Linked DNA regions of Homo sapiens: all the other regions are linked to region 3. Evidence: fine-mapped expression QTL. A gene starts in region 3. Each other region holds a variant in brackets. All regions are shown on one strand. Distances are between the middles of the regions. Region 1 has its middle 68 kb from the start of LINC01948. Region 2 overlaps LINC01948 (long intergenic non-protein coding RNA 1948). Region 3 holds the start of LINC01948 (long intergenic non-protein coding RNA 1948).

Region 1 (8,184 bases), 68 kb after region 3:
AACAATGCTGTGCACCTGGAAAGGAGATAGTGCAAAGAGCCTCCAATTACAAACCAGCATAGGAAATAACTTATATACATGTAATATGAAGACGTTCATTTAAAAATTACTTAGTGAGAGCCTAATCCCTACTTGACCCCGGGCCAAATTCTAGAGACATAAACATAATAAAACACAGTCTCTACACTCAAGCTCATAGTGAGGAAGGCTACTGAAACTATCCACACCCTAGGAGTGGACGTTGTAGTTAGAGTATTTATGAAGTTCCTTTGTAATCTATGAAAATGCTAAGTAAATATGAAGACATTTTGAAACAACCACAAAACATTTGTAAAAAAAAAAACAACTTTATTATTCAAAAACGTATTTTCTGATCTTTTTTCCTTAATTTTACCTCCAAGGGGTTTCAGACTCCTGAGTTCCTCTTACCCAGTGGAAGAATGGCCAGCTCAGATGGTTGGGAACATATCAAACACTTTCTAGCATGTAATATCCACTCAACAATTTTTGTTGAATGAATGAAAGCAGGCAGAATTTGAATAATAAACTGAGATGGAATAGGGCATAGGAAGACAGGATATGGAAATGGAGTTTCATCGAGAGTAAATATACACAGCAGAGGTTTTCCTACTTTCTTGGGGTCATAATCCCCTGAGAAAAATCGAAACCAATTCCGATTGCTCCAAACATTTTATGTATCAAGCAGAGACTTTATGATATAGGACCTTGCCAACATTTCAGGACAGGTTAAACAAACAAACAACAACAACAACAACAAAAAACAAAACAAAAAACCACAACTTTTATGTCTGACTTTCTTTTAGGAAAGATACTTCTAATTTTTTCTTCCTTTTTTTTTTTAATTGTAGGATTTCAGATGCCTCATTCATCGGGCTCATTCAATATGCTCTTTTTGTTGTACAGGTTACATAGGCATCTCAGAGGAGATATTTAGTTGGATGAATAAATGGATCTAGAAAAATATCATCTTATTTTGACAAAGGAAGAAAGGTGAGAAAGGCAGGGAAGCTCAGGGAAACTGATGCTAAGAGGGGCCTCAAGAAAGGTGAGATTTACCATTCGTGGCCATACCAAGGAATTTAGTTACAGATAGATCCTTCTATGGGCACAGTAGCTGGCACCTCCACTAGAACAATTATAATCATTTCTGAGCATCAATCTCCTAAATTATAGAGATGCATAAAAAGATTAGATGAACTCAGTTTTCTAACTTCAGTAGAAATTCTTTAAAATTTGCTACTTATCTCTTCATATGGACGCCACAAGAATATAGCTAACAGAGATTAAATACTTGGAAAAATTAAAAGACCTATTCAAATGTATCCTATTTCATTTAAGTACTAGTTTGTTCTTCCTTTCTTGACTCCAAGTCAGCTCTCAGTAGAAAAAATGGTCTATGAGAAAAGAATGTCACAAAAATGTCAGCTCCAGATCTAAGAGGAGTCTGAATAAGTTCAAGCAGCAAGTCTAAAAGAAATTAACTCCTCATCCCCTGCTTCCTATTCCCTTTTCTGTTTTATTTTGACAGGCATCTGTGTGGATGGGGTACCTTAAGTTTGCTGTGGTAAAAATATTGTGATAATATCATGTTGTGTGTTCTCTTGCCCTGCTGTGATGGTTAATACTGAATGTCAACTTGATTGGATTGAAGAATGCAAAGTATTGATCCTGGGTGTGTCTACGAGGGTGTTGCCAAAGGAGATTAACATTTGAGTCAGTGGACTGGGGAAGGCAGACCCACCCTTAATCTGGTGGTCACAATCTAATCAGCTGCTGGCTAATTTTCTGTCTGGCTAAGCAGACAGAAAAACGTGAAAAGGCAAGACTGGCCTAGCCTCCCAGCCTACATCTTTCTCCCGTGCTGGATGCTTCCTGCCATCAAACACTGGACTCCAAGTTCTTCAGTTTTGAGACTGGGACTGGCCCTCCTTGCTCCTCAAGCTTGCAAATAGCCTATTGTGGGACCTTATGATCATGTTAGTTAATACTTAATAAACTCCCCTTTATATATATAATATCCTATTAGTTATGTCCCTCCAGGGAACCCTTACTAATACACCTGCCAACATAAGAACCAGAAGGAAGAAGTGCAGACGAGCTGGAAGAGTAAGGTGCATGAGTAAATATGAGCTGAGCTACTCAGAATTTTGACAGGACCAATAATTCCTGAAACCTTTGATGTCTGTTTTATACATACACACACACACACACACACACACACACACACACACACACACACTGACCTCCCACAGTGTGCCAGTTAAAACAATGAAATCCCAGAAGAGTTAACTTGACCGAGTCTGAGAAAGCATTACTAGATATCTAAGGACAAAGAAAGAACAAAACTATTTTTAAAAATCTGAAAATGTTAAAAGCTCCAAGAAAAGAGTTAAGATGTGTCTTAAGAATTCAAAAGCCCTCAAAGCTAGCAGATAATAAAGAGAAGAGTGAGTTGACAGTGACAACAAGGCAAATTCTGGCCTTGAATTGCAATCTTTAGGTTCCAGGCTTAGGACTCTCAGAAATTTCATAGCTCCTTGGTTTTGAAATAATGTAAACAATGGCCTAGAAAGACATTCCTGAGAAGTAGACTGGACTGCAGATAAGAAGCTGGACCCAAGGCTCAGGCTGGTGTTAAGACTGTGCAATCTACTTCTCTGTGAAACTTTCTTGGGGGTGAGAAGTTTAGAGTCAACAACTGGAAGAACTCTGTAGAGAGGCGTGGCCCAATTGCTGCTTCCTCTTTTCTCCTGGGGGCAAGTTTCATCAGTCTCAGAGCCCTGCTGTTTGTCATGGGAAATGGGGTGATGGCTGTAGTTCCTGTCTCAGTCTTATTGGTCGATCATACCCTGTCAGCGACCTAGGACATGGTAAGCACTCAAGCACACCATAATTATTTAATATTGATGCAGGGGCTGCCACGACTTAACAATATATTAATGACCAATATTTCATTACTGTGGGTTTGGGGACAGTCAGCCTTAATAGCAGGAGGCTAAACCAGAGTGACTAAAGAGCATCAGAGGATTTCGGATAGCACAGGCGGCAAAGGTCCATAGTGAGACAGCCACGGGGCAAAGGCAACTGGCTTTCTTTACTGAAGAACTACTTTGTGTCGGAGAACCTACTATAAGGAGTTATATTAGAGGTGAAGTTTCTCATGCATGGAGAGACTAGGAGTGATGGTTGACCCCAATATCTTTTTTTTTTTTTTAGAAACAGGGTCTTGCTCTGTGGCTCAGGCTAGAGTGCAGTGGCATAATCATAGCTCACTGTAGCCTCGAGCTCCTGGGCTGTAGGGATCCTCCTTCCTCAGCCTCCTGAGTAGTTGGAACTACAGGTGTGTGCTACTGCATCCAGCTAATTTTTAAAAACTTTTTTTGTAGAGACAGATTCTCACCCCCTTGCCCAGGCAAGTACAGAGATCCATGTACTGGCGCGGTGGCATAGTGGCTCATGCCTGTAATCCCAGCACTTTGAAAATCCTAGGTGGTAGGATTGCTTTAGCTCAGGAGTTCAAAATCAGCCTGGGCAACATAGCAAAAACATGTTTCTACAAAAAATATTTTAAAATGTAGCTGAGTGTAATGGTGCATGCCTCTGGTCCCAGCTACTCAGGAGACTGAGGCCAGAGGATCATCTGAGCCTAGGAGGTCAAAGCTGCAGTAAGCCATGATCACACCACTGCACTCCAGCTTGGAAGACAGAGCAAGACCCTGTCTCAGAAAAAAAAAAAAATGTTTAAAGAAGACAATTAATTTAGATATTTCAGGATTCCCACAAAATATCAGCAGCTAATAAAATCCTGTGCTAGGCCTTACCAAGACAAAATAACATTTAGCCCTATATTTGATGCCTCTCCCATAAAGTCTCAATTTTCTATTGCTATTTAAAAAAATGATGCCATGAAAATACAAAGCAGCTGAAATGAATTATGAGTCCTTTTCGGGGAGGAGAAGGGGGAAAATCTTTCCCCAGGGGCACATTTTTTAAAGTTCCTCTTTCTATTTGAAATGCTTCCTGACTTGAAGCCTTGCAAGAATTTCACAATTAGATGGGTGCAGGGAAGAACAGTTCTGCAGAGTAGCAGAACATTTCTTGCAAATTAAAAAATTATTTGGTTCTGTCGCTAACCTTATTCAAAACTCACTCAATGGTTTACAAAATGCCGGTTCCTCTTAGTTATTTCTTATCAGTGTTCTTATGCAGAGAAGTGTATAAAATACACTGTATAAAATTATGAATGCTAATTGCAAGATTTTCAGGTTCTTAATATTAACAAAGATACATCATAAGCCATCTTTGTTAATCAGCAAATTAAACCTATTACACCAAGTCGACTTCTAAGAT[T/G]TGTCAAAGTATAATTATTTTTAAGTTAAAAACTTAACTCTCATAAAACATATAGTGAGCAGATGTCAAAGATTTATTTAACTCAACGAGAGAAGAAGCAGAATGACAAAGCTGGAATAAAGAAGAGTATGACAACCATCACGTGGATAGTCATTGGAAGTAATTCTGAAATAAGAGTGCAAAGTTAGACACCAAACTGGTTAATGTCCTACAGGGCAATAAAGCCATAACCATCGGGGTTACCCTTTTTTTTTCTGGACAGATGTCTTTAGCAATGTAACATTTTCTATGGGATAACATCAAACTTTACAGAGTCTGGGTCCTAATTAGTAAGACACACAATGTTACCTCCCCCTAGAATATCAGATGACTTTTGGGCAAGCAGATTAAAAGGTATGCATTCATCTTTTTTCTTTATTTTCAAGATTTGGATAACTCTTCTTAATGGATCTTAGAAAAACATGCAGAAAAACCCAGAATTCTCCAGGAAGAGTCCAGTGTTCCCATCTTTATTAATCTGGCTTAGCTGGCATTTGTATTGTCACGGGAGAGAGTCGGGATAAGGACAACATAAATAGGAAAGCTTGATCAAGAATTCCCTTACTTCACAGTTACTGCCTAAATGCAGATATTAATACTTAAAGTCAGCGGATGTGAAACTAAACAGCAAGCTGAGCCCAGCCCCTCTCACAGTTTGCTGCTGTCTCAGGTCTCCTGACATGACAGTGCTCACGTCATTTGCAGCCAGAGAAGCCCCAGCCTCACCCAGCACCCTCCTCAACCCAGTGCTTCTCCCATCCACTCATTTCCCCACCACCGGGGACCCAAGCAGCCTACTTCCTCTGAATTACCATGCTTATCCTCACTCATATTTTGGCTTTGTTTCACTGTTCCCCTGGATTTTATGGTTGCATTCATACTGCAGTATAACCAGTATAAATCAATACTTAATGATTTCGTATTTTTTCGCACACTTTTTGTGGACAAAGCCCAGTGACAGGTCTCTCTCATCTCTTTCTTTTTCAGTTCACACCAGCACCTGGCCTCATTGTCACAGATATATCCACAAGGGCTTAAATTCTTATAATCTGCTAATTCTTTCACAGTCTGTCTACGAGGCAGGGCACACCCGGACAACTTGAACTAGAGATCAGATATGAGTCTCTTTATGAGGAGCTTAAAATAAAATAGGATGGAGAAAAATAGAAAAACCAGAAACACTGCCCCACCTTTGTTTTTTTAAGCCACTGCTAAAGAGCCTGCATACAAGTTAAGCTTGTGAGACAAAGTTTAAACTCAAGATGTGTGCATTAGGGGGCAAGTAATTGGTACCCACTGGGTTGGGCCTTCTTGGAGTTGGTAGCTTTTCATACCCACTGGGAATGTCTTGTCCCTTTTTCACAGCCACCCAGATCTTATTTTCAAATTTTAAATCTCAGTTTCCTAAGAAGCTTCCAGTGGTTTTCCATCCCACAACCTCCTATAGCACTCATGGTAGGAATCAGTTGTCTGGTATTACACACATGCCATATGTTGCCAACATCCTCTAAGCTTGAAGCATGGCTCACAACTCCTAAGCAGGATAGCAGGGTTTGTACAGTCCTGGTTGCATCTTGTACTTCTTTATATATAAGAACCCTCATAGCTCTATATTGGAGCTCAATACAAATTGCTTATTTTTTTGAAGCTAGGCCTGAGTTGAGCTATTAGGAAAAGAAGGATGAGGTTTGGACAAGTGAGCAGAAAAATAATGAAGCAAAGGCATAGAGGTAGAGAGTGTCTGGAGGAGGTTAGGCGTGGCTGTGCAGAGTTGCAGTAGAGATCCACTTATCCTAGAAGGAGAGTCAGCCAGAATGTGAGAAAGGAGGAAGGGTAGCTTAAAAGGGATCTCAAGAGCTTGAGAGAAATGTCATACTCTGCTTTATAGCACCTACTAATGTGTTAATGAGCCCTTAGTCATGTTTAATGAATAAGCAAATAAGTGAGTGAATGAATTAATGAATAAAATATTTTTAAATCTCTCTCTCTCTGTCTCTCAGTTTTAATTCATTTCAACCTCGCTTTAGTCAATGCTATACTCTCCAAAATAGTGTGAGAGGCTTCATGGTTTTCTGTTAAATGATATAATAGACAAATTTCACCATATAAAATGGGATAAATATGCGGTTTTTAACCCATGCATTGATTTTTTTCTTTTGGTCTGACATTATTATGTATGTACAAAGTCCTTAGAAAATATTTCCTAAGCCCCTCAAACTATAAAGCTGGCAACGCAGCACCCAGGCTGACTTAAAATAGCAATCTGATTAATTATATTGCCTTGAAGCAAAGATGTGGCTAAAACACTGATTAGTTCCCTTTATTCCAAAAATCAGTTTAAAATTTTTAAAAAGTAGAAATAATTGAGTCTGAAATGTTCCTAATTCATGCAAGGAAAATGCTTTTAAAAAAAAACAAAAAATCTGTAGGTTTGGTTTTTTTAAATTAAAATGATGGGTTTTTTCCCCTCAATTTTACCGTAGAACTCACACTTATAAACTTCTAGGAAAGAACCTATACTCCGAGGAAATATTTCAAAATCATTTAAAATTAGATAAAAATCAGCAAGCGTAAAAATGTCCACGTGACTGTCTGAAAATACAGTTCCAATGTTAGGATTGAAGGCATGATGATTTTTTAAAATGGCACAGAGGAAGCACATTATTCAGTTACTTAGTGATGTAAAGAGGACTTCTCCTGATCCTTTAAGCTCATTTCTATAAAGTTGACATTTTAATTGGTTGAAGTCAGCCCTGTGCACACTTCCAGGCAGGCTGAATGGTAAGGTGTCGCCAATAAAATGCATCCCATGACCCCTGGAACAATATAGGGTACATAGGTAGGTCCTCAATTAAAAATCACTAAAAACTGAATACATGTGATCCAAACATGGAGAAATAGTGGCAACAAGATTGCCAGACACAGTATGTGGAGTCGGGCAGGCAATGGCATGCCCTTGTTATGCTGGTGTCCTCTATAGCACTCATATTCTGTCATGTATGGTTGGGAAACTTCACGTGTGCACAAACCATTTCCTAACCCAAGTTTCAGGATCCTTGAAGTCAAGGCCAGGTTCCAGGCCTCCTCACATTTCCCACCATGCTCAGCAAGCTGGGAGGCGAGCGGGCACCCACCTGCAAGCCAGGTTCAGTTCTGCCTCTGGCCAAGCACCGACTGCCCATCTCCCCAAGTCCCTCTGTAGTCATGAGACGGGGGCTAAAAGGAGGATATAATTAAAGGGTCAGGAAGTAAGGAGAGAGTGTGGTGTAAACTGAGGAAGCAAACAGGTCAGGACAGTAGGTCTGAGGGGAAAAGTCACCTGGGCCATTATACTATAACAAAATGAAAATCTAGATGCTTTATTGTTCTCAGTAGTTTAAAAAAATATGTTTTGGGAACAACTATTTTTATAGAGATGAGAGGGGAAACATACACTAGAAAAATCTTTCTCATAGGAATGAGTTTGTTTGTCCTTTTTAAACAAACAAGCCAACATGAGTTAGTAATATAATCTTGCAGTTAAAAACCAACAAATCTCCACCAAAAAAAAAAAAAACAGCAATATGATATATTTCTGTCCATCGTTTTAGCCCTCTTGGGTGACAGAGGAACCAGCTACCCAGAGAAGAAGACTTGGGGGAGTGGGTAAGGGTCTCCCCTCATCCCAAGGACAGCATCACAAGGGGTTCAGGGTGAAGGGAAACAGGAAGTGGAGGCATTTTCTGTCTTTTCAAACTGGGCACTTCTCATCTGGTCCAGCTCTTTGGCAAAGAG
Region 2 (8,184 bases), 28 kb after region 3:
ACTGAAATTGCTGGCGGGAGCTTCTTATCTCTGATTCTTCTAAGAATTTGGGACGCTTCACTGAAACATTTGTTTTTCCTCATGTAAAATGTAAGCTGAAAGTTATGGGCTGTCTTTAGGTTGGGAAAAGCTTTTAGGATTTTACTGCATGGGACTCACTCAGCTTTTGCTTTGTCTACTGCTAAAATAATTGAAACGTGAATCAAATACTAAATATAACCCAAAATATCCTGGATACATAGTAAGCTTTGAGAGCATTAAAACATGACTAAGCCCTTTGCTCCTTTTTCAGTGAACCTGTTGACATGAAAGGGAGCCACTAATACCATCTTTTTCTCCCCTCTCCTCCAGGTCAGTCCTAAGCAGCACAACCTTAGCCACTGTGGAGCTAGTGCCAGCTGTGTGAATCTGTACAGTGGTGCAGTGTTAAGGGCAAAGAGCACTTTGGAGCCAAGGCAGACAAAACTGCGCAGAGCTCCCAGGCCTGGGTGATGATCCCTCTTCCCAGACATCTGAGGAGTTGCCATATTGATGTTCTCTCATTGTTTCGGCTGAGCTGGAATGATCGAAATAATTCTGGGACTATGACAAGTCTCACCAGACCTCGTTATGGATCAGGGAGAGGTGAACTTTAAAAATAATCAAGTTCAAAGGAGAGCCCTGTCACCTGTGATCAGTTTCGTTAGCAGAATCCCACCAGCCTTGCTCCCCATATCCAAAATGCACTCACCTCCCACAAGGCCCTTCCCTGCTCTTGGTTGGAGCCTCTGAGTTCAGACACATGCCTGAAGTTAGTTTCTCTGGACTGGGGAGCTTTCCCATTGCTTCCCAAGGACCTCCTAATGGCAAGTGATAAAACTGATTGGCAGGTGCGTGAGAGAGTCATAGTCAACTCATGGCATGAGAAACAGAAAGTTGATAAAGCAGAGCTTTTCTAGAGATTGAGCTGAAAACTTTTTATTTGGGAAATATACAACGTAGCAGAGAGCTGTGCTATTTAAAACGTAATGGGAGGTCGAGGTAGGCATATCACTTGAAGTCAAGAGTTCGAGACCAGCCTGGCCAACATGGTGAAACCACATCTCTACTAAAAAATATATACAACAATTAGCTGGGCATGGTGGCAGGCACCTGTAGTCCCAGCTACTCAGGAGGCTGAGGCAGGAGAATCGCTTGAACCCAGGAGGTGGAGGCTGCAGTGAGCCGAGATCGTGCCACTGTACTCCAGCCTAGGTGACAGAGTGAGACTCCGTCTCAAACAAAACAAAACAAAACAAAACAAAACAAAAATGTAATGGGCAGGCTATCTGCCTGGAGACAAAGTACATGCCCATTTCTGAGAACATTATTTGTCCTGGAAAGGTAGTTTCATAGTGGGATTCTTCTTCCCTGCTTCTTCCTGGGTCCCACAAGGTTGATCTTCCTCCATACCTTTCTTTTGTTCCCTAACATTTTACAGCATTGATTTTCTAACAAAAGGAAGGAAAGTTCCTAGGGAGGTATATCAACATTTCTAAAAGGAAATGTATGTATACTTTGAAAATACATATTTCACATTATAATAGAATTTCATAATTTAGAAATGAAAAGTACATCACTCTAATTATATTTCTCTTGATGAAAGTAAAATTTGACAAGTTATCTCTGCTGACAAGAATCTGCATCAGTGAATCTGCAAAGAGGGCACCAGTTAGGGGTGGGGCCTCATCTTCCTAGATGGCTCAGGTCTAGAGCCTGTTGGCTGGTCAGACATAACATTTTTATGTTTATCAAATAGGAAAATGATTTTTTAAGGACCATCTGGGCACAGGTAACAGGAGATGCTTGTATCTCTCCTGTAGGGTCAGTCTTCAGGAGACGGAGCTGAGACAGGAGTCCTACTGGCAAGGTAGGAGCAGCACACTAGGGCTTTATGGTCCAGGATGCTTAAGAGAAAGAGAAATGTACGTGAAGACAGCCTGGCATCCACTACACAGGCCCTGCCTTCACCGTGTGGATGTAGTTGCCCTGAGAGTGGACAGAGAAAGAAGAATGAGAGCAGTGAGTCAGCGAAGGGCCTCAGAATGGGGATCTCAGGACCTTCAGAGCTGGCAGCCATGTGGCTGCCTCAGGACACAGTCATGCAGCACGTGGTGTCTGAGGGGTAGACAGTGATTACCTCCTAATCTCCCACAGATGGTGCCCTGGGCAGGGGTGGGGATGAGGACCCACCCAAGCAGGCACCTAGAAGAATTTGATCCTGGAACTCTTAGCAGGGAGGCAGTTCTGTGTAGGCAACTTCATGGCATCACCTCTGCAGGGCCTTGTGACCCTACCCAGGGTTATTAGTCCCACATTCTTCAAGAGCAATGGCTGGAGAATGGCAAGAGTTGAATGGGAGTGGGGACACAGAGACATTGTTAGGACTATAGCAAGACAGATCTAATGCATGAGTCTTACAGTGAAAAGAAAAGAAAGCCCAGTGAGCAGTGCCAAATGCCACAGAATCAAGTGCCTCCCTGCTGAAGATGGGACAAGTGAGGACAACCAGGGCACTGTTTTGGTGGAGGAGCTGGAAGGACCCTGGGTTGGTGAAAGAACATGACCTTAGCAGAGGCCCATCACGTTAGGAAGGGGCACCAAGCTGCAGAACAGCAGGATGGGCACAGCTGGCACAAAGCCCATCCCAAGGCACAGAGAGAGAAGGAGGGACTTGGGGCGTTGCAGTCCAGTGAGTTCCCACTAGGGAACTCAGCACTTAAGACTCCTAGAGTATGGTCTCTCAGGCTGATGGACAGGAAGCCTGGAGATGGGGCTAAGTATGTGGAACAGGGACAGAAACCTCAAGGGTTCCCGAGAAACTGGGACAGGCCGGACAAGGCAAGATGCTCCCCACTTGTAGGTCCAACAAGAAGCACGTTCTTCCAAAGATTTAGGGTGTTGTGAAGGTGGCAGAGGGCAAGCAGAATACTCCATTTTAAAGAACACTCAGCCATATATTAGCAGAAGTGCAAATCAATCTTTTGGAAACAGCATCCCACCTTCCTCGGACATTGATATTTAAGGCAGGGACTGCTATGACATTAGCCAGACTATCCACACACCAAACCAGGCTGTCCCCGAGGCTCTGATTCACAGCTATTTACCAACACCCTGAATGTGTTATCTGAAACAGCAATCAGGAGAGAAGGCTACACGAAAATCTAGACAGGTCGCACCTTCTTCAACGTTTTGAATTGCAAAGTAAGAGGTGACACCAGCCCAGGGAGGTGTTGTGACCGTGGAAGGAGAAAGAATGAGCAATAATCTCTGGCACACCTCTGGGCAAAACGCTAAG[C/T]AGCACAAAAAGTGCGAGAGCATAGGACACATGGAGAAGAGAAGGTATGGAGCAGAAATGGCATTTCACTGGGAACTGGGATAAATAGGATCTTTCTTCACTCTAACTAGCTTGGTACATTTGGGAAAGTGATTTAATGTCCCTGAGACCTGGCTTCTTCCCTTGTAGAACATGAGAGTTGATGCAGGTGTTCCTTGGGATCCTCCTCATCCTAGTATTCTGTGAACGTGGGGGTCTGGGTAGTTCACAGACTGGGACACCCTCTCCCAGATTTTCCAGAGTAAATATTACTCCCCTGATGCAGCCTCAGCCAATAGCATGATCCTTCCCATCTCAGGAAATGTGTCCAATCAGAAAACATAGAGGGTGGATCCATCGGTGAGAGATCTTGCCGAGCGGTGTCAAGACTTCCCCGTGGCCCTATGTTTACCATGCATTCGATTCTCGGTGTGGTCCGGGCCTTTCTCACCTCATCCATTTCACCTACCAAGAAAGGAAATGACATTCATCCGGGCTGGGGCACTATTGCGCAACAAAACAAGCCAACCTGTAATTAAGGAGAACTGAACGCTGATGCTGAGCCCAGCATCTTGGGGAAAGACTGCTGAGAGTTTCGCTTGGCTTTGGAATTCATTTATCAGATAACATGCGCTGGATTGACCTAAACTGCAACATGGCCCTTGTAATTATACCGTGCTTTTGCTTTGGAGCCTGAGGGAAATGTGGAAGGCGCTGGAGTCTGAGCTCTGGGTCACCTGAACGTCCTGTGATTATGCCCGGTCTCACATTCAAAAGGAGAGATGGGAGTGTTTGTATTTTACCCACAGCAGCAGACTCAGCTCTAGGATATGTGGGGTGCATGTGTCTTCTGTCTCTCCTGGAACTCAGTATCTGTTCATTCATTCATTGAGTACCTACTGTGATCAAGGCACTGGATGGGGCACTATGACAATTTCTCTTTTGGTATTTTTTCAAGATTTGTTTACTTGATCTTCTAGCCCAGGGGTCAGCAAACCACAGGCCATGGGCTAGATCCAGGCCTTTGCCTGTTTCTGTGCAGCCTCAATAGTTAAGAATTTTTACATTTTTAAATGATTAAGAAGGAAATCAAAAGAAGAACACTATTCTGTTACACAAGAACATTGTATTCAATTTGAATTTTGGTGTCAATAAATAAAGCTCTATTAGAACCCAGCTGTGGTGGGCAGAATTCTAAAATGTCCCCCAGGGATGCTCATCCTTGTTTAATCGCCTCCCTTTGAGTGTGAGTGAAACCTCTGAATGTACTGAAGTATCACTCCTGTGATTTATGTTACATTTTATTGCAAAGGGAATTCTTGCAGATGTCATTAAGATTACTAATCAGTTGACTTGGGGGCTCTTCAAAAGGGAAATTACCCAGGCGCGCCTAACCTAATCATACTAGCCATTTACAACAGGGTTCTCTCTTGCTGGTAGCAGAATAGAAGTTAAAGAAACATGCTACAGCTGACCAGGAAGAGAGCAAACATCTGTACTATGAACTGCCCAGAGGAGCCCTGAGTGTGGCCCTGATGACAAGCAGCAGGGAAACCAGGACTTCAGTCCTACAACCCCAAGGAGATGGATTCTTCCAACAACCTGAATGAGCTTGGAAGCCCCCAGATAAGAGCCCAGCCAGCCAATACTTTCATGTCAGCAGCGTAAAACCTAAGTGAACAGCTCAGCTAAGTCCACCCAGACTTCTGACCTACAGAACTAGAAATAATAAGTGGGTGTTGTTTTAATTGACTGAGTGTGGGGTAATCTGTTCTGCAGCAGTGTACTGACAATACAGCACAAATGCACATGCATGTGCACATGATCTGTGGCTGCTTTCACGCTACACCAGAGAGTTGGGTCGTTGCAGTGGAGACCTTATGGCCCATGAGCCTAAAATATTTATTACTGAGTCTTTGAGAGAAAAGGTTTGACAAACTTGTTCTCTAACCATAGAAGTAATCTCATATCAGATGTATTTTGTGAAGGTTTTGTGCCTTACCCAAGGCTTGCAAGAAACAGGACTTACACCCAGGCACACTCAGCAAACATTGCTTCTGTCAAGCTGAATTAGCTCCAAAAAATTAGTAGGCACCAGGCTGACTGCAGACCTACTCTCCATTCCAATTTTTAAAATGTTAGGGGGAGAAAGAGTGTGTGTGTGTATTTATATTGTTGAGCAGGGATAAAAATATCAGAGGAATATGTACCATATGTATTTTAGAGGTTGTCATTTCTATATTATGAATTTCAATAATAGTTGAATTTCGTGTCATGAATTTGTGTTAGTAATTATTACCTTATTATTTTTAAAGGCTATTCTGTGCTCCATGTGTGCTCCTTGGTGCAGTGGCCTAGAGAAGAGAAGGTATGAAAATTGTTGCTTTGCAATCAGAATTTGAACTCACTCCACTGTCTTCTTGACTTCTTCTGCCTTCCAGATGCCCTTCTGCTTTCACAGTGAGATGTGTCAAGATAATCCAATTCTTCATTCACTAATGATGGTTATCCAGGAGAATAATTTTCAATCACTTTCGAATTAGAATGCCCTTTCTCTTTCTGTCATACACACACACACACACACACAAATTAAAAGATTTGGAGAGGCTGAGGCAGGAGGATCACTTGGACCTGGAGTTCAAGGCTGCAGTGAGCTATTATCACATCACTGCACTCCGGTCTGGACAACAGAGCAAGACCCCATTTCTACAAAAATAAAACAATTAAAATGAAATGTCTGGCATGGCGTGTATACAGCTTTAAATTGGGTTAAAGTCCATATGACTCTAAAGACTGGAAGAAGGAGCTGAAGAGGGTTTACTGGGGCTAGTCTAACAAATAGCCACAAACTGGGTGACCTAAAATACAACAAAAATTAATTCTCTCACAGTTTTGGAGGCCAGAAGCCTGAAATCAAGGTGCTGGCAGAATCAGTTCCTTCTGGAGGCTCAGAGGGAAAACCGATTCCACGCCCTCCTGGCTTCAGGTGGCTGCTGGCAACCCGTGGCGTTCGTTGGCTTACAGCTGAATCACTCCAGTCCCTGCCCGTGTCTTCACCTGGTCTTCCCCCTCCTTATGTCTGTGTCTCAGATCTCCCACTGCCATTCTCTTTTAAGGACTGCTGTCGTTGGATTTAAGCCTATCCTAAATCCAGATGATCTCATCCCAAGATCATTCCTTAATTACATCTGCAAAGGCCCATTTGCTACATAAGGTCACAGTCAGAGGTACTGGGGTTGACGGCTTGGACATATCTTTTTGGAGGCCACAATTCAACTCACTACAGCAGGTATTTAGTATGTTCCTGGAGCTGATAGGGAAACCTTTCTCAATCTCCTAAACAGCAATTGAAATAAACAAATCTGTTCTATATTATACTGCAAGTTTTTTTTTCTCATGGGGCTTTATAGATACTTACATCCCCTCACACACCCCCAAACCCCCATGATCTTGTGATTATAGATTAGACATTTACTCTGTGGCAAGGGAGATACTGAAATCTTCATCACTCACCTAGATGGGTGCCCCTGCCTTATCTTGCTCTTTTTACCTATCTGGACAAAACCCAAAGTAAGGCAACATTTAGGAGATACATCAAAAGTCAGGGTACTAATCCACAAGTTTTAAGTCCAGGATTGAATCCCACTGAGACTTTCTGTGAGTGGGAAATTCTTTGTGCTTTCCAGCAGAATAGTATGGATCTCTCTGGAAATAAGTCCATGCCACTTATTGTCCATTTGGCCTTGGGAAAATCCGATGCTGTGATCTGGTTTCTCTCCCTGTAAAGAAGACATAACAATACCTTGCTACCTTACCAGGGTGTTGTGTGAATTTGCTGACACCCATAAAGCTCCCTGAAAATGAAGAAGCTTACATAAGTCCCTGGTATTATTCACACAGCAAACGTTTTCCCCTGAGAATAAAGTAATAAATGGTACCATTGTGCAGCTGGTGGAACGTGTTCAAAAGTTTCCGTTCACAACTAGTAGATCAAGTTGTGGGTGGCTGTATGGACTTTCTGTGCTCATGCCAAGCTTCATCCAAAACAGCCAGCACGACAGGCTATCTCGGAATGAAAAGCTGTACTGTAAGAGACGGCCAGATCATGGCATCGTATCACACAGGACAATCACGTGTAGCCAGAGACTACATAGGCACTTTTCCTCACAGCAGGAAAGGAACAATGGCAGAAACATTGGCCATATGGATTTCTAACATGGCAGCCTTTGAGAAGCAACTACCTTCTTCCAGCACGTTGACATACTTCCCAAGGCTAAAGATGCTCATGATTGTGAAGAATTATAGCTTTCTCTCTGCATTCATGGAGAAAAGCAGAGTTCTAAATCAGATAGAGTGTTCAGGTGAAAATCTATTCTCTTTAAATACAATTCATCTGGGTGGGAGTGTGTGGGAATTGTTTGGACAGAATGCTACTGGCTGGCATAGGATACAGGAGAGCATTTCTTTCTCACCATTATAAGCCCTGGAAATACCCCAGCACATGATATAGGGAAAATGTCTTTTCTCTTTTAGCAAGGTTTGGGACTCCCAGCCTTTGGATGTCACATCGAGAAGATGACAGATATTTTTAATTGAATGAGAGGAAGATTAGCTACTGAAGATTTTTTAAATGATCATGTTTGATTAGAGTTACTTGGGAATTAGACTAATAAGCTCACAGCTGGTCAGAGGGGATCAAGGTACTCCTTCAGTGGTAAATATTCTCATATTAAAAAGCTGAGGCAGGATTACACAATCATGGAATTTTTGAGCTGCCATTGATTTACCTGGATATTAAACTATTTGGTAACTTTGCAAATTCCATGGACGTGCTAACATTTTTTCCCTCT
Region 3 (8,184 bases):
TTTTTGAACCACTCCACCTGTCTCTGAAATTGGGACCCATCAGTGCAGAGACTAGACATTCTGCTTTATGACCACAGCCTTAAACTTTGTCCCTGGCCCTTCTGGCTTCTACCACCTCTGACATCTGCTGTCAGCCTGACCTCTGCCAGGCCTGGCATCCATTGACTCTTCTAACAGTGCTCTACTTCTTTCAGGGGCAGTGGAGAGGAAGGTTCCATGGCAGGGAAAAACTTTGAATATAGAACTAGGGGACTGGCCAGGGCTTAAGTTCTGCATCTACTACCGACCTAGGAAGGTAACTGTCTCTTTGCCATTTGGGACTGAATTCCCTCATCTGTAAAATGGGGAGGGGAAAGTATTAGAGTAGGTATTACTGAAGCCACATCTAGGCCCTCTTCAGACTAGTAACTTCTTCCCTATCTAGGTCCCCAGCACCCCGAATTCACCAACTGGGAAGCTTCATGGCTTTATAGCCTAGTGTTACTGGTTTTCTGGAGAATGAAGGAGAAAGACAAATGCAAAACAGCATTGCAAGATGAATATCCCAGGCCTCTTGAACTCGCTAATAAAATAAAATCGTGAATCAGTCTCTCTCACCCAGTCCCCAAAAAAAGAACAAATCTCTTTTGAACTTCCTGCAGTGGCAAAGAAAAGCCTTTACCTTCAGAGCCAAAGCTATTTGTATACTGTCCCAGTGTCCTTTCACCCAGAGCTCATCGCACAGACAACAGCAAAGGCAAATGAAAAGACAAGCTATTGTTTTGTTGTATTTATATCCTGATGTAGGAAACAGCACAAAAATACCATCAAGGAAACTCAGTAAGTCTCTGCTCTAGGGTATGTATACAGTTTTGGTGCCAAAGGTAGCCGGGCCAGATGTTGGAGGACATGGTCTCCCTGAAAGAACAAAAGAGAAGCATGTTGGGATTCTACAAGGGAGGAGAAGAGCCAGAAGTAATCACGCAGGTGCCTGCCCAGTAAGCTCTTTCAGAGGCCTGGTGGCAGCCTTCTCTCTGGGTGTCAATCCAGACGCTGCTGCCTGACAGCTATAAGGTCTTGGACACAAATGTTATCTCTCTGTTCCTCAGTTTCTTCATCTATGAAATGAGACTAATAACAATGCCTAGTTCACAAGACTTCAGTGGGAATTAACAACTTAACATATATAAATCACATAGAACAGTGCCAGGTATATACGAAGCACTCAGTATTAGTGAATGTTCTCATTATATATATATGTCTAAGAAGTTCTGTGATCCCAGAGCTATAATTGTAAAACTTTACTGCCATTTTAGGGAGCCTGAGGTGCAGTTGAATTATTGTTGGCTCTGATACTGGACAAACTTGGATTCTGTTACTTACCAACCCTGATCTGGGCAAGGCTGCACCAACAGTGGGGTCAAAGTGGCTCAAGGCTTAGGATTGCTCAGAAATATTGTCCTGCTCCAGGGAATCTAGGGATGCTATATTGTCTAGACTTGTGGGACCCCCTTTAAGCCTCTTTCTTCCATCATCATAGTCATCTTCACTATCATAAGTTATCATTCTCATTATCATCATTATTATGATCAACTAGTTAGCCTCTTTCACTTACCTTAATGTTTTGTAGGTTCATTTATGTTGTATTTTATATATAATATATGTTGGATTATAGTTTGTATCAATACTTCATTCCTCTTCATGGCTGAATACTATTCCATTGTATGTACATACATTTTATTAATCCATTCACTCATTGATGGACAATTGAGCTGTTTCCACTTTTTGGCTACTGTGAACAGTGCTGTTATGAATATTGATGTACAGATTTTTGTTTAAATATGTTTTCAGTTCTTTTGGGCATATACCTAGGAGTGGAATTTCAGGGTCATATGGTAATTCAATGTTCAGCATTTTGAGGAACCACCAAACTGTTTTCCATAGTAATGGTACCATTTTACATTCAGCAGGACTTTGATGTTAAAAAAAAAAAATAGTCCTGGTGGTTAGAATTTTCTCCTTCCTGACTCAGTGGAGTGGAGGAACTGCCCAGTGGATGGGAGGGACAATAAGTGGGGGCCTGGACCTCTCTGCTGCCTCATTAATCCTCAGTTGTAGGAAGGCACTAACTGGGCTCTCTGCAAAGCACATTTTACTAAACTAATGGGGAAGCAGGAGGGGGATGGGAGAGAGGTGGACAGAAGACTCTGGAAGTGACCAAGTCTAAGCAAGAAGCCATTATATAGACCGTTATGTGTAGACGGTCTTGAATCCTAATCACTTTCTTCAAACAGAACCGTGGTATTCTTGTGCATTTATTTATGGTAGTAATTGCCCACAATCTTGGTGTCTGATGTCCTATAGCAACTTGAAGGGGAGCGTGTGTCAGAACCCCTTTAGAGGAGCAGGGGCCGATCAGGTTTTCCAGGAGCACTTGCCATGGAAGCCAACAGGTTGGGCAAGGAAGTTACTGGAGTGTCTGGAAGAGCAGGACATTAAGGGAAAGCACAGGGGGTTGGAGCCAGGGAGGCTCCGCCATTAGATGGAGAGAGGCAGAGTGCAAGCAGGAAATAGAGCAAGCCATTAGGAGTCGGAGGCCAGGTCTGCAATCCTATAAGGCAAAGACAATGGGTTCCGCAAGAGGCATTGACCATGGATGGGGCTGGGTGGCCAGAGCTCATTATTCTTACGGGTTGTCCCATTGGCTGTGAGGACAGTCAGAATGGAAGAGGCAGAGTCTGGGCAGGCAAAGAACAGCCTTTCTCAATAGGTTTCGGAGATAGCTTATTAAATGTGTGTTCAGGGGATTTTTAAACTTCACCCAGATATCTTTTAAAATATATTGATATCAAGAATATATTATAAAACCTGAACCCTGGCAAATGCAAAGTCTCCCTCCTTTGAAAATAGTCACCATAGTTCATGTTCTGTCCTGTTTTTTTTTTTAAATATATAATTTCAACTTTTATTTTAGATTCAGGGGTACATGTGCAGATTTGTTACATGGGTATATTGTGTGATATACATGTGATGCTGAGGTCTGGGGTAAAATGATCCTGTTACCCAGGCAGTGAGCATAGTAGCCAATAGTTATTTTTCAACCCTTGCTTCCCTCTAGTATCCCCCAGTGTCTATTGTTGCCATCTTTATGTCTATGTGTACCTAATATGTAGCTCCCATATATAAGTGAGAACATGCACTGTTTGGTTTTTCTGCTCCTGCATTAATTTGCTTAGAATAGTGGCTTCCAGCTGCATCCATGTTGCTACAAAGGACATGATTTCCTTCTTTTTTATTGCTGCATAGTATTCCATGGTGTATATGTACCAGTCTTCCATTGACGGACACCTAGGCTGAGTCAATGTCTTTGCTATTGTGAATAATGCTGTGAAGCACATAAAAATGAATGTCTTTTTGGTAAAACGATTTCTTTTCATTTAGATATGTACCAGTAATGGGATTGCTGCTGGGTCGAATGGTAGTTTTGTTTTATTTGAGAAATCTCCAAACTACTTTCCCCAGTGGCTGAATTAATTTACATTCCCACCAGCAATGCCAGCAATGTATATGTGTTCCCTTTTCTCCACAGCCTTGCCAGCATCTGTTGTTTTTTTGACTTTTTAATAATAGTCATTCTGAGTGGTGTGAGATCTCATCGTGGTTTTGATTTGCATTTCTCTGATAATCAGCAATGCTGAGCATCTTTTCACATTTGTTGGCTGCTTGCATGTCTTCTTTTGAGAAGTGTCTGTTCATGTCTTTTGCCCACTTTTTAACAGGGTTGTTTGTGTTTGTGTTTTGCTTGCATAGCTGCTTTCCATGTTCTTTTCTATGTTATCTAGAACTATAATAAAAGTAACTGCCCAGCTCTTTGGGAGGCTGGGGCAGGCGAATCACTTGAGGTCAGGAGTTCAAGGGTAGCCTGGCCAATATGGTGAAACCCTGTCTCTATTAAAAATACAAAAATTAGCCGAGTGTGGTGGCACACACCTGGATTCCCAGCTACTCAGGAGGCTGAGGCAGGAGAATTACTTGAACCCCCAAGGCGGAGGTTGCAGTGAGCCCAGATCGCACCACTGTACTCCAGCCTGGGAGACAGAGTGAGACAGCGTCTCAAAAAAACAAAAAAAAAGGAACTAGGTCTAAGACAGGGTACCCAATCTATTTCTAAGAAGATGCTACTTCTCATTTTCTGGAAACACTGTAGCAAAGAGGAAGGGACAATAATGTCCCATAGTGGGTGGGCAGATATAAAAACCCCAAGATGTTCATTTCAGGCCCAAAGTGACTACTGCTTGCTACCCTCACCTTTCTCTGCTGGAACACTACCAGCCCCTGTGAGATGTGGGTGATCTCATGGGTGTTTGGAAGAATCCCAGTACCAGGCTAGGGGATCATCAAAGCTGACTGGATCAGTCCTGCTAGATCAGGAAGCCTTACTGAGTAAGGCTAATGCCAGGTCTCCAAACTGCCACTGAGCATCAGGGGTCCTTCCCACAATATCTTTGTTTCTCTAGGTCAAGAAATGATGCCGTCCCTAGAAACAGCGCAATGTTTATGTAAGAGTCAACTCAGAGACCTTGTGCCGGTACAAGAGGTACTATCTCATCCTGCTCCCCTGCAGGCACTAAATGAGACAAAATTCCTTCTGGAGTTCAAGTCCAGAAGGCTGACTATGCTGTTAATGGCAGTATACTGAGTTAAGAGAATTCGGGGAGACGGGAATATTGGGTCCACGATTCTGCCTGGAGGGAAGAATTGTGGTCTCCTCAGTCCTGTGGAGTAGGGGTCCGGGCTGATGATAGCGCCTCCTGGTGCAGAGTATACAAACAGCTGAAGATCTGCCTGGACCCCCTACCCCTCTCTTTTTTCCTTGTGGAAACTGTGTATAATTTGGAAAGAGCAAGGACATCCTGGCTCGCAGCTGGCCAGCTCCACCTGCGACCTGGACAGCCTCGCCCCTCCCTGCGGAGCCAGGCGAGTTCACAGGGCTGCCTCCGCTTCTTGCAGCATGTCTGCTCTCCTGGCCTGGCCTCTCCAGACCTTTCCCTCCACGGGCAGCGATTTCCAAGGCTCTCAAGACTCCAAACCACGTCGTTTTGGGAGTGAAAAAGTGAAAGCACACATCGTGTCATTAGAGCAGCAGGGACCAGCTGCTGGGTCAACACTTCCGAAAACAGCGCTTCCTGGGGAGCGACCGGAGCATCTCAGAATCTACGGTTTGACCTCCTGCCAATTCTCATGGTGTCTTTATACATTTTAACACAAAAATAAGATGTTTTCACTTGAGAGCGAGAGGGAAATGAACTGTTAAGGTGCTCTGTCGCCAGAGAAGTGAAGTTGGGGGGTAAATTTTAGGAACCCCCGACCCCCCTACCGAGGGAGGATGCGAAGTCGGCTCCTGAAACGCGAGCGAAACCCCCGCGCGCTTCCCGGGGTGACGCACATGTCTGTGTTTCTTTTTGCTTTTGACCAAAAGTCGTAGGGAGGGTCCTCCTCAGGGGACAGTCGCGGGCGCTGTGCCAGTCCTTCCTGTCCCCCCACCAAAGTCAACCCCAGCCCCAGGCCAAGGCCGCCCCGGCCGGAAGAGCCAGCTGGTGGGGGCCGTGGGGGGCGCGGCGGGCGCGCGGGGCTGGGGGCGGCGGGTCCGCCTACCCCGCCTTCCTGGCGTGGAGAGTTTCGGCCCCAGCCTCGCTGGCGTGGACTCTGCCTGAACCACGCCTGGGATGCTTTTGCCAAAGGAAACTTGGGGGGTGGGGGCGGGGCGGGCGACGATTCCCCCCCTCCCCACCCCGCCCCTGTCCTCCTCGGCCGGGAGCCGCGCTGGGCCGGGGTCAGCTGGCTGCCTTTGTGGCCGCTTCCCAGGAAGGAAGAAGCGTTGTCTGCAGATCAGTTGATCCGCGGGCTTTCCTGTGTCGGAATGCCGCCGTTTTCCGGGGACGGCTGCCACCCCCGTGATTCCCAGCCGGGGCTGCCGGCCGTGCGTAAGAGCCGGATAAATAGGCCATTGTGAGGCCGTTCAGATCTAGGTTTCTTATCACAGTATCCACCAGCGAGAAGCAGATTCGGCCCCTGATGGAGCTCATCCCAGCTTCTCTTTTCTTTCTCTGCACAGTTACAGCCATTTCTATTTTTTGCAGTTGTAAAGGGAATATTCAGAAAGCAATTTATTGTGTGCGACAGGGACTTAAGGGAGCGTGTCTGCAGACCGTGTTCCCACCGGGGTTGGGGTTCGCAACCTTGAGTTTAGCTCGATGGGCTTTGGTGTGTGAGGTTTCTACCCGCCCATCGCCCAAGGCAGGCACGTCCTTAAACACCAGCTGCAAGTATCAGGAGGGCAAGTCCGTAGGTCTCTAGATCCAGTGGGTTGGCTTTTTGGTGTTTGTTTTGTTTTGTGATAGCCTTGATCTGCTTTGTGGACACTGAAAATTTGAAGGTCGAGGGAACACGAGTTAAAACAGGTCAAATGAGGGAGGTTCTGAGGAAGGCTGGTGGTTTGGGAAGAGCTGATGCTGATGGTGTTGAGTGTCTGTTTTGTTTTTGTTTTTCTGCTGCAGCAGCCGCAGGGCTGTGGAGGGGTTGGGGTTTCCTGGTGTTTGACTTATTGGATAGTCATTGCTTGGCATGGCTGGGTTTTTGGGCCTGTGACCTGTGCTCAGAAGCCGACGTGTGCTTAGTTGGATGCTCTACTGACACCATGTTGACATGCTTAATAATTTTTGAAAAGGACCCTGCATTTTCAGTTTGAACTGCACCCGGCAAATTATGTAGCCAGGGCTGTTAGTAGACTCTCAAATTCATTTGAATAAGCTTGAATAACGGTTTGAATCAGTTCCCATTTGAGATAAGGGCCTGTGGTTAGTCGATAAGCTGCTGAAGGTGATTCTCTTAGTTTTCAGAGTATCTACTGTGGCTGTGCTGACGGATTAGAGCACGTTCCACAAACTAAACCAGGCTGCCTGGCATCGTGGGCATCTGCAGGGAGCGGCACCAGCCCCCTGCCAGAACAGAAGAGTGCAGCCAGGCAAGATTAGCTTCGTTCCGCCTGCTGAGACATCATCCTTTAGAAAGCATAGAATGTGCAGCCCTCAAAAACCTAGTGATTTCCTTAATAAGATGCTTATTTGTGCAGTTATTGCTTCTCTTTTCTTTTCCACTCTGAAATGCCTGGCTTCCAGGGTTGAAAGTGGATTCATCCTACCAAAAATATTCTATCGTTTTTGGGCACTGTGTTAATACTTCCAGCACCTGCTAAGGACTGAATGTTTGCATCCTCCCAAGATTCAGATATTGAAAATCTAACCTTCAATGTGATGGAATTTAGAGGGGGGTCTTTGGAGAGTAATTAGGTTTAGATGATGGCATGAGGGTGGGGCTCCGTGATGAGATTAGTCTCTATAAGAAGAGAAAGCAAAACTAGAGCCTTTTCTCCCTTCACCTGCATGAGGACGCAGCAAGAAGGTAGCTATCTGCAAGCCAGGACCAAGGCCCTCATCGGGAACAGAATCTGCTGGCACCTTGCTCCTGGACTTCCCAGCCTGCAGAACTGGGAGAAATAAATGTCTGTTGTTGAAGCCATCCAGCCTACAATATATATTCTGTTATAGCAGCCTGAGCTGACTAAGACAACCCCTAAACAACTCTTGAGAAATTACTCTAAATCAGGGACTTTGCATTTCTCAGAGACAGGGGAAGGGAAGTTGGCAATAGTTCATAATAAATAAGGAAAATGCTATCTTTTTAGAAATAGTTTGTATAAGATACAGTTGTTTTGGTTTAATGCAAAAAATATTCCCTTCAAATGAGTATTTGTTTACTTGCTTACTCCTTCACTCATTAATTTATGGCTTCACTTTTCATTTACTCAACAACATTTATATAGGACAGGTAATAGAGGAGACTTTGTGACATTACAGTAAAAGAGAGAATTCCCTGCCCTGGAGAGGCTTTGGAATAGTGGAGATATAAAGAAATAAAGAATACAATGGAATGTTACACGTGCTAAAATAGCTACCTATCAGGATATTTTAGGGCCACAAAAGGGTTATTTGAATCACTTCCATTTGCTCATCATTAATGAATTCCCTAGGTTATTTTTTATAAGCCTTATTATTATTATTATTAAGGTTTTTTTGAGACAGAGTTTCACTCTGTGGAGCTGGAGTGCAGTGGTGTGATCTCGGGGCACTGTGACCTCCACCTTCT

Evidence for each region. PIP is the estimated chance that this variant, and not a neighbour inherited with it, causes the effect.
Region 1: its variant is fine-mapped to the expression of LINC01948 in whole blood (INTERVAL, PIP above 0.99).
Region 2: its variant is fine-mapped to the expression of LINC01948 in whole blood (INTERVAL, PIP above 0.99). The same link has a PIP of 0.9 or more in unexposed skin.

What each region holds. Positions count from the first base shown.
Region 1 is chr5:56,410,098-56,418,281 of GRCh38, reverse strand. No RefSeq gene overlaps it. Among named protein-coding and RNA genes, the nearest start is that of LINC01948, 68 kb to the left of the region's middle. RefSeq lists an enhancer at 2,898-2,947. The variant T/G (reference allele first, on the strand shown) is at 4,372.
Region 2 is chr5:56,450,111-56,458,294 of GRCh38, reverse strand. It overlaps LINC01948 (long intergenic non-protein coding RNA 1948), which reads left to right. Exons shown (of 5, transcript NR_104664.1): 5 at 352-500. Among named protein-coding and RNA genes, the nearest start is that of LINC01948, 28 kb to the left of the region's middle. The variant C/T (reference allele first, on the strand shown) is at 3,317.
Region 3 is chr5:56,478,567-56,486,750 of GRCh38, reverse strand. LINC01948 (long intergenic non-protein coding RNA 1948) reads left to right here and starts at 4,982. Exons shown (of 5, transcript NR_104664.1): 1 at 4,982-5,198. RefSeq lists enhancers at 5,054-5,213, 6,414-6,583.